Regions from separate parts of the Homo sapiens genome. Here region 1 is linked to region 2. Evidence: fine-mapped expression QTL. A gene starts in region 2. The other region holds a variant in brackets. All regions are shown on one strand. Distances are between the middles of the regions. Region 1 overlaps RIGI (RNA sensor RIG-I). Region 2 holds the start of NDUFB6 (NADH:ubiquinone oxidoreductase subunit B6).

The links. PIP is the estimated chance that this variant, and not a neighbour inherited with it, causes the effect. A credible set is the group of variants that fine-mapping cannot tell apart.
Region 1: its variant is the best candidate, but not a certain one, in a credible set for the expression of NDUFB6 in whole blood (TOPMed, PIP 0.82).

The regions. Positions count from the first base shown.
Region 1 is chr9:32,505,627-32,511,009 of GRCh38, reverse strand. All of the region lies in intron 1 of RIGI (RNA sensor RIG-I), which reads left to right. Among named protein-coding and RNA genes, the nearest start is that of RIGI, 18 kb to the left of the region's middle. RefSeq lists enhancers at 1,495-2,211, 2,212-2,930. The variant G/C (reference allele first, on the strand shown) is at 2,422.
Region 2 is chr9:32,570,089-32,575,471 of GRCh38, reverse strand. It overlaps NDUFB6 (NADH:ubiquinone oxidoreductase subunit B6), which reads left to right and starts at 2,313. Exons shown (of 4, transcript NM_002493.5): 1 at 2,313-2,591; 2 at 4,420-4,512. The coding sequence starts at 2,412. RefSeq lists enhancers at 1,906-1,955, 2,226-2,765.

The DNA.
Region 1 (5,383 bases), 64 kb after region 2:
CTATTATATAATGCCCTTCTTTCTCTTTTTTGATCTTTGTTGGTTTAAAATCTGTTTTATCAGAGACTGGGATTGCAACCCCTGCTTTTTTTTTTTCTTTCCATTTGCTTGGTAAATCTTCCTCCATCCCTGTATTTTGAGCCTATGTGTGTCTTTACATGTGAGATGGGTCTCCTGAATACAGCACACCAATGGGTCTTGACTCTTTATCCAATTTGCCAGTCTGTGTCTTTTAATTGGGGCATTTAGCCCATTCACACTTAAGGTTAATATTGTTATGTGTGAATTTGATCCTGTCATTATGATGCTAGCTGGTTATTTTGCCTGTTAGTTGATGCAGTTTCTTCATAGTGTCGATGGTCTTTACAATTTGGTATGTTTTTGCAGTGGCTGGTACCAGTTTTCCTTTCCATATTTAGTGCTTCCTTCAGGAGCTCTTGTAAGGCAGGCCTGGTGGTGACAAAATCTCTCAGCATTTGCTTGTCTGTAAAGGATTTTATTTCTTCTTTGCTTATAAATCTTAGTTTGGCTGTATATGAAATTCTGGGTTGAAAATTCTTGTCTTTAAGAATGTTGAATATTGGCCCCCACTCTCTTCTGGCTTGTAGGGTTTCTACAGAGAGATCTGCTGTTAGTCTGATGGGCTTCCCTTTGTGAGTAACTCAACCTTTCTCTCTGGCTGCACCTAACATTTTTCCTCCATTTCAACCTTGGTGAATCTGATGATTATGTGTCTTGGGGTTGTTCTTCTCGAGGAGTATCTTTGTGGTGTTCTCTGTATTTCCTGAATTTGAATGTTGGCCTGTATTGCTAGGTTGGGGACGTTCTCCTGGATAACATCCTGACGAGAGTTTTCCAACTTGGTTCCATTCTCCCCGTCACTTTCGGGTACACCAATCAAACATAGGTTTGGTCTTTTCACATAGTCCCATATTTCTTGGAAGCTTTGTTCATTCCTTTTCATTCTTTTTTTCTCTAATCTTGTCTTCATGCTTTATTTCATTAAATTCATCTTCAATCTCTGATATCCTTTCTTCTGCTTGATTGATTCAGCTATTGATAGTTGTGTATGCTTCACAAAGTTCTCGTGCTGTGTTTTTTGGCTACATCAGGTCATTCAGGTCCTTCTCTAAACTGGTTATTCTAGTTGTCACTCCTCTAACCTTTTTTCAAGGTTTGTAGCTTCCTTGCATTGGGTTAGAACATGCTCCTTTAGCTCAGAGGAGTTTCTTATTACCCACCTTCTGAAGCCTACTTCTGTCAATTTGTCAAACTCATTCTCCGTCCAGTTTTGTTCCGTTGCTGGCAAGGAGTTGTGATCCTTTGGAGGAGAAGAGGATCACATTTTTTTTCTGCCTTTTTGCACTGGCGTTTCCTCATCTTCATGGATTTATCTGCCCTTGGTCTTTCATGTTGGTGACCTTCAGATGAGTTATCTGTGTGGATGTCCTTTTCGTTGATATTGATGATATTCCTGTTTGTTAGTTTTCCTTCTAACAGGCCCCTCAGCTGCAGGTCTGCTGGAGTTTGCTGGATGTCCACTCCAGACCCTGTTTGCCTGGGTATCACCAGTGGAGGCTGCAGAACAGCAAAGATTGCTGCCTGTTCCTTCCTTTGGAAGCTTCCTCCCAGAGGGGCACCTGCCAGATGCCAGCTGGAGCTCTCCTGTATGAGGTGTCTGTTGACCCTGGTAGGAGGTGTCTCCCCACCAGGAGGCACAGGTATCAGGGACCCACTTAAGGAGGCAGTCTGTCCGTTAGCAGAGCTCAAGCACTGTGCTGGGAGATCTGTTGCTCTCTTCAGAGCCAGCAGGCAGCAACATTTAAGTCTGCTGAAGCTGTGCCCACAGCTGCCCTTTTCCCCAGGTGCCCTCTCCCAGGGAAATGGGAGTTTTATCTGTAAGCCCCTGAGTGGGGCTGCTGGCTTTTTTTCAGAGATGCCCTGCCTAGAGTGAGGAATCTAGAGAGGCAGTCTAGCTATAGTGGCTTTGCCAAGCTGCAGTAGGGTCTACCCAGTTTGAACTTCCTGGTGGCTTTGTTTACACTGTGAGGGGAATAGGGCCTACTCAAGCCTCAGTAATTGTGGATGCCCCTCCCCCAACCAAGCTTGAGCATCCCAGGTCAACTTCAGATTGTTGTGCTGGCAGCGAGAATTTCAAGCTAGTGGATTTTAGCTTGCTGGGCTCTGTAGGGGTGGGATTTGCTGTGCTAGACCACTTGGCTCCCTGGCTTCAGCCCCCTTTCCAGGAGAGTGAATGGTTCTGTCTTGCTGGCATTCCAGGTGTCACTGAGGTATGAAAAAAAAAACTGCAGCTAGCTCAGTGTCTGCCCAAATGGCCACCCAGATTTGTGCTTGAAACCCAGATCCCTGGTGGCATAGGCACCGGAGGGAATCTCCTGGTCTGCTGGTTGCGAAGACTTG[G/C]GGGGAAAAGCATAGTATCTGGGCCAGGGTGCACTGTTCCTCATGGCACAGTCCCTCATGGCTTCCCTTGGCTAGGGGAGGGAGTTCCCAGACCCCTTGTGCTTCCCAGGTGAGGTGACACCCTACCCTGCTTCAGCTCGCTGTCTGTGGGCTGCACCCACTGTCTATCCAGTCCCAGTGAGGTGAACCGGGTACCTCTGTTGGAAATGCAGAAATCACCCGCCTTCTGTGTTGATCTCTCTGTGAGCTGCAGACCGGAGCTGTTCCTTTTTTGGCCATCTTGCCCTGGTTCCTAGTCAAGCATTTTTTAAGAGAGGATTTTCATATAGTAAAAAAAAAAAAAAAAAAATTAAGTAAATACTTTGGTTTAAAATTTTAGATTGAGTCTGTTAGGAGCTAGGGAAAATTATGATAAATAAGAGTTAAATCCCTTGCCTCAAAAGGGGGAGACTTAAAATATTACCATTTTCCACTTGCTTCTGTAGTTTTAAAAAGCTATATGAATGGTTACAGATAATGATACCATTTAAATGAGGTTTTATATGTTTTGTTGTTCTTGAGAGGAGAAAAGAAACTAGTAATTTAAGCTAACCAGAAAATATAGGAAAGGGAAATATAAACAAGATAACACAAGGAAAACTAGTTATATCAGCTATGGCCATGTAATTAGGTCAAACATCTTTTAAATAGGTGTGAATGAGTCAGAAAGCAGAATCCAGGTTTTGGTCATCTGCCAGAGACCCATGTAAAGTCTAATAACATAAAAAATAAAAATGGGGGCCAGACTTGGCAGCTCATGCCTGTAATTCCAGCACTTTGGGAACCTGAGGTGGGAGGATTGCTTGAGCCCCGAAAATTGAGCCTATGGTGAGCTATGATCATGCTACTGTACTTCTGCTTGGGCAATGGAACAAGACCCTGTCTCATAAATAATAAATAAATAAAAAAGAGATAAAGAAGGGACAAATATATATTAAATAAATGCATACGTAAAGAAAGCAAGAATTATACTTAAATTGCACTAGTGGAAAGTATTAAGATAAAATGATAAAGGTATTGAGATATCAGTGAAGATTTGGTACACATAAATCTTTGTTTATTAAATATTAGAAAACGTCAAGAAATATGGGAATTATAAGATATCTTTATTAGTACTGCTAAGTCAGATAAATGATAATAAAAGCATAAATGATCTGTTTAATAAGGTTGATTTAATGTCTATGTTTTCCATTTTGTATCATATAGCAAATATATCCTTCTCCTCCAATTCTTAAAAAGCTTTGCCAAAGTGATCCTATATGAGTTACAGATAAATATTTAATAAATTCCCAAAGCATAACTTTTATGAGTTTTATTTTCAAATTTGTAGGCTCTGTGATACTGGGCAAATGTCTTAACTCTCGTATGCCTCAGTTTCCTCATTTGTAAAATCAGAATAAAAACCATGTTTGGGTGTTTTGGAAATTAAACTGCATGGTATTAAATTACTGTTAGCTATTATTCTATATCCCAGAAATTAATCATAGGTTTAAAAAAATTTTCACAGAATTTCAAAATAGCATCCTTTTGAGTAACTTCTAGCAGAATGAGAAAATCTAAACAAGTATAGCTACTTTCAAAAGTAAGCACGGCAATCAGCCAACATATTATATATTTTAAGATGTAATAAGCTTTTAATCAGAATTTATAGCCTAAATGGATTTATTGGTATTTCAAAAGAATGAACACTTATGAATTAATTAATTTGACTGAAGTAATTGCAAAAAGAACAGCCAGTTAACTCCAAAGAAAGCAAACTGGCCAAAATAAAGAACAAAAACAAAATTCCCCCAAATTACTGGAACTAACAGAGTTCATTCAGTCTTGTTGCAATAGATACGTAAAATAAAATAAAAACGGAGGCCACGCATTTTTATCTACTGGAAAACAAGTGAGATTATACTGGAAAAACAGTATTTTCATATACTGGAAAAACAAACCAGATTATATAACATTTCCCTAAATGCATAAAAGATTCTTACAAATCCAATTTAGAAAAAAATATGAATGACCTCTCAAAACTAGCTGTGAGACATGAACAGGAAATGTATTAAGAAATAACCAAAACAAAAGACACTGGCCAAAGGTGGAAGAAATCCCACAAGAAATCATTAAAAACAGTGAAGTTTGTTTGTTTGGTCTGTTTTTGTCTCTCAGTTTTGCAAAGGTTATGAAGATTGAGCAAATTCAGTGCTATGGAGGGAAATATCATTCATACACTATCGATGGAGGGTTAGTACAGTTTGGAAGGTAGTTGGGGAAAATGTATTAACATTCATTCCTTCCTTCATTGATTCATTTATTCATTTATGGATTGATTGATTGATTGATTGAGACAGAGTCTCACTCTGTTGCCTATGCTGGAGTGCAGTGGCGCAATCTCAGCTCACTGCAATCTCCACCTCCCAGGTTTAAGTGATTTTCCTACCTCAGCCTCCTGAGTAGCTGGGATTACGGGTGCAAGCCACCACGCCTGGCTAATTTTTCTATTTTTAGAAGAGATGGGGGTTTCACCATGTTGGCCAGGATGGTCTTGAACTCCTGACCTCAAGTGATCCGCCTGCCTTGGCCTCCCAAAGTGCTGGGATTACAGGCATGAGCCACCGCGCCTGGCCTCCACATTTAAAAGCATATACTGTTAAACTGAGGAATTATACTTCTGAGAACTTATTCCAGGGAAAAGTTGGTAAAGCAGGTAAAGACATAGATGGGTGTGTACTAAACGCATTTTAGTTTCGTGTTAAAGGAATACATTAAATTATACTACATTTATGTGACATAAAACTATGCAGCCACTAAAAGTTGATGTAGGTACATATTTATTAATAGGAAACAACACCTGTAATCCACTGAGTGGAAAAGAGCAGATTTGTTAAATCTTACTTATTTAAAACTATATATTTATACACATAATTAGATATGT
Region 2 (5,383 bases):
TTTTTTTTTGTTTGTTTTTGCGGGTTGTCTCTCAGTGGATTTACAATAATTCAATGGTTTAAAGTTATAGTTGATCCTTGAAAAAAACAGGTTGAACTTCGAGGGTCCATCATACGTGGATTTTCTTCTGCCTCTGGCACCCCAAGACAGCAAGACCAACCCCTCTCTTTGCCTCCTTATGATTTTCTTAATAACAGTTTATTTTCTCTGGCTTACTTTATTGTAATAATATAGCATATAATACATATACAAAATGTGTGTTAATTGACTGTATGTTATCAGTAAAACTTCTGGTCAAGAGTAGGCTATTAAGTTTTTGGAGAGTCCAAAGTTATATGTGGATGTTTGATTGTGCCAAGTGGAGGGGATTGGCACTACTAACCCTAGCGTTGTTACAAGGGCTATTGTATTTAGAATGATGTGTACCTTTGAGATTATGCCACCAAGTGGACCAATTAAGAGCTACTGGTTTTTACTTGATTTTTATGGACTGCTTTTTGTAAATTTAATTTTGTTTTGTAATGATATTGTTAAAATTAAAACTTTAGAAAAATTAAATTTAGCAGAAATTAATTGAGCAATGACCAATTTGAGAATCAGGCAGCCCTCAGAACCAGAGGAGGTTCAGAAAGTATCGTTCCACAAAGAGGCCAGGCAGCACGCATAGAAAAAAAACAGAAATGAGATACAGAAACAGCTTGATTGGCTACAGGTTGGCCTTTGCCTTATTTGAACATGGGCTGATCAGTTGACCACCTGTGATGATTGGCTGAGACTCAGTTATTTGTTACAGAAGTATATTCCTAAGTTAGGCTGTGAGTTAAATTGCATACTAAGTTGGGTTGCAGTTCATTATATAAGGACTCAAAATACGGAGACATCTTTAAGCTAAATTTAATTTCACAATATGAAATATTTACTTGGTTCTAAAGTCAAATTTATGAAGTAAGATGTTTCCAGAGATGTCTAGATTCTATCCCTGTCTCCTCTATCCTATTTATTTCCTCCACCATAGGTAGCATCTTTAAAAACCTCAATTGTTTTCATTCCCATTATTTTGAAAATTTAAGAAAATATGTATATATATTGAAATTACCACCATCTTTCTCTTTTTGGGTAAAAGCATACTGTACAAATTCCTATCCATTTTTTTTCCACTTTGTAATGTATTCTGGAGATCACACCACAGATGTATATAGAGTTCTTCCTTATTACTTTTGACGATTGTATTAGCATTTCATTGCTTTGTTGTGTGAAAGTTTTTGGGAAGCCACTGTTTTGGACTAGCTTCACGCACTAGGCCCCAGCAGACCAGACCAAACCAGAATGGAGTCGTTTGTGCTAAGTACCACACAATCAAACTGAACTTTGAAATGGGCCAGTTTCCCAAAAAATAGGAAATTCCCTTAAGTCTGAGTCAGTGAAACAAGGAAGTTTCTTCTGCTTTAACCCTAAAAGTAACTTTGAAACGATGAGTCCACTTTTTGTTCGGTTTCTGCTTTCTTCAGCCCCTATTTGCCAATAAAACCAACCGCCTCTGCTCAGCTGATCAGAACACTCATTCTACTTTATAGAATGAGGTGTTTTTTGATTCTAGAATCACGAATAAGAGTCAATTAAGATTTTTAAACTAATTCGTTGTAATGCTGTCTTTTGACTGTTGTACTACAATTTATTCAAGCAGTCCTTTATTTAGGAATTTGGGGGTAATTTCCAATATTTTGGTATTATGAATCGTGCTGAATAGTCGTGCATGCTCTTTCATATTTTCACCACACGTATTTTTGGGTGAAAGCATGAATTCATCTATGCAATTTTGCTAGATATTAAGCTACTCTTTTCACTATTCCTGTACAGATGGAGGGACAGATGAGACAGCTGCCCAGGGCACTTCAGCAGTTACTGGCATAGCTGGGATTTGAACTGGGATGTAACTATTTTCATACACTCTCTAGGTCATTCCAAGGTGGGAGAGGCAAGCAAATAATTTTGAATCTGGCCAGCATATTCACTGAAACATTTATGCTTATCCTTCCTCCTCCCAGCATACAAGTTCTTCCTTAGCAAAACCTCCAGTCCTCTAATTTAGCATACTTTCGTCTAATCTGTCACTTTCCTCAGGCCCCACAACTACGAGTACTCCTTGTCCCCACCCGGTCCTAATTTGGTCGGGTATAGCGGAGGTGGGCGTAGAGAGAACTGGAGGTGGAGACCTTTGTGCATGCCCACACACTGCTTTCCTCGCGAGGAATCTGGGGCCCTTGCAGAGGCGGAACCAGGATGTGACGTAATAACCGCGCGCGGCGCTCGGCGTTCCCGCAAGGTCGCTTTGCAGAGCGGGAGCGCGCTTAAGTAACTAGTCCGTAGTTCGAGGGTGCGCCGTGTCCTTTTGCGTTGGTACCAGCGGCGACATGACGGGGTACACTCCGGATGAGAAACTGCGGCTGCAGCAGCTGCGAGAGCTGAGAAGGCGATGGCTGAAGGACCAGGAGCTGAGCCCTCGGGAGCCGGTGCTGCCCCCACAGAAGATGGGGCCTATGGAGAAATTCTGGAATAAATTTTTGGAGAATAAATCCCCTTGGAGGAAAATGGTGAGTGACAGACCTCTCCGGTCCCCCCCAACACATCCCACTGCTGCCGGCAGCCTGAACACTGAACGTCCGCTCCCTGCAGCCACACCAAGGACTGATAACGCTCAGTGCTCTGGGACACTGGCCAGTCCCGAGAGTCCTCCTGGAGTCTCGGGAGGCAGGAGTCCAGGAATATGTATGGCTTTGAGAGAATCATGCCTTTTACTGTCAAGTACAGTGGACGGGGGCGAATTTTAATACTTAGGTTTTCCAGGACGCTGCACGTTTGGTTCTCTTTTGACTGTAGAAATCTTCCCTCAGAATAATAACCAAGGACTCGCTAGAATTAAAATTCTGTGATTTAAGTATTTGAGGACACTTGTCTGACTTTTAAGTGTGAGGTTCTAGAGACCAAGTAACACAGTATCCAACCACCAGAGGGCACAGCCAGCCCCTAGCTGATAGTACAGCCCCATGTGATCCCCGTAAAAGACAGGGTCCTGTTGGTATGCCTTGTGAGTCACATTCAAGAGCTACCTTTCTAAACTACCGTTCTGTACTTTTAACACAGTGTTTCATTAAAAAAATCGCATTTTGGGCTTTGAAGAAAATCACTCATTCAAGAACTTTATTTTCAAGGCCTCTGGGTATTTTCTTGAGGACTGTTATGGATGATAAACATCTCAGAATTGCTTTCAGTTACCTGCAACACTTACTGATGACAGGATAATAGTAGTAACAATACTACGTAACACACGGGTGCTTGCTGTGTGCTTGGCACTCTACTGGGGGTTTTACATGTGTTACTTCATTTCTTTATTCCTGTAAGGTAGATATTCCTAATCCTCATTTTAAATGTGAAGAAACTGAGGCCTACAAAGCTTCAGTGATTTGCTGGTGGTCAGGGAGCTAGGAATTGAATATGAGTTCATATTGTAATCAACATGTATCTGATTCTTACTGTGCTACAAAGTCTAGTGCAATAGAATTGTTGAAAATTTTTCTGAGAAAGTGATATTGGATACTTATTTATGGTGGTAAAATTCAACTCTTCTCCCACCCTTTGTATCCCTGACATTATCGGAATATTGGCAGTCACTGATTTAAAGTTGACATCCCATCCATCAGCAAGTGATATAAGGAAGTAAATAAATAATAATGTGTCGAAGTTCACCTTACCTTACTTTAATTTATTCTTTTATAATCATATCTGTTATAATTCTTAGATTCTGGATTGTCCCTTCCTTGAATGGATAGGTGTTTTTTAATCAAGTTGGAAGACATGGGAAAGTTCCATTTTTAGTTCTTTTTTAAAATAGTGTTGCAGAGGGCATTTTGGAGTGAGTTTGGGACACCCCATCTTAGTATGTAAAACGTCCTTTTTCCAGCATTGGCGTTGTCAAGGTTGTCTGCCTTATACCTAAAATGATGTGAGTGTCATTGATCAATAAATAAGGGAGATGACTATACCTGAAAAATTCTGTAGGTTTGATTACTCTGGTTAAATACATTAAAATTATTCTTTCATTATTTTGCTATATTTTATCTTTAACAAACTTATAATAAGGATATTTTTGGAAGTCTTTAAAAAATCTATAAATGCCTTGTTATAGTCTTGCAAAATACTGCTTAAGCATTTTGGTCTGGACTTTGTAGGTATCTTCTAGCAGACTCTGCATTTACTAAGAATATTTGAGTAGATGAGGTTACCTACAGACTATAAGAAAATATGTGCCATTTAGAGTTTTGTAAAATAGTCATGGCATTGTTACATCATTGATGCCTTTTGTTCTGCCATAAATATAAAAAATGGGATATGTTTATTTTGTGTATGTGTTTTTCCCCCCAGGTCCATGGGGTATACAAAAAGAGTATCTTTGTTTTCACTCATGTACTTGTACCTGTCTGGATTATTCATTATTACATGAAGTATCATGTTTCTGTAAGTATGTCCTTTTCAGAATTCATTTTTAATATTGTCCAAAATTACTTTCTTTGTGGCTATCTTACCCTACTTAGTGGAAATAATCTGCCACTTATAAACAGATTTTGAAGTACTTTGAATTCTCTTAGGTAAAAGGTTTAATGAAAGTTACATAATTGGGTATAGTTTTTAAAAAATATTGTCACTAGTTTACAACTTGAAATGGATTTCCTCATAGAAATTAGTATTTAAGTGATAAGAATGTAGTGACCTAATAATACTAGGGTAAATTTGGAGTCATGAATAGGAAGGGAGAAAACAATTCTGCTCCTTTTTAAAAACCTGTATCTCGTATAAGGTAAAAATTCAAAATAGACAAAGCATATCTTTGTCATCACCCAATTTCTGTTCCCTTCATTTTATCTGATTCTTCACAATTTTTATTTATTTAGAACTCAGGATGTCCAGATGCCTGCACTTTTTCACTGATACAGATCTTGCATGGGCTGATGGAACTGAGCCAGTTGTGGTATTTTAAAGGCTTGGTCTGGTGCAGGGTGTTGGATCCCAGGCAGAATGAGAAGGGCATGCATTTTGGGAAGTGGCGTGGCAGAGGGAGCAGTGGTGACTGCGTAGCCTGAAGTGTTGGAGCACAAAAGAGTGAGGAGGGCATTCGTATACCAAGAGAGGGGTGTTAGATCCTCAGTGGGTTGCAGGGGAGGAGGGTGAGCACATCTGTTTGGGGAGCAACAGTGGCAACAGCCTAGTATAGGATATTGGTACCTGAGCAGAGGGAGGAGGACATCTGGAAGAAGGATGGTATGAGGCAGTGAGGCAAGTGGTAACTCAGAGCAAGATGTCAGAACCTGAATGAGGTGAGGCAGGTATT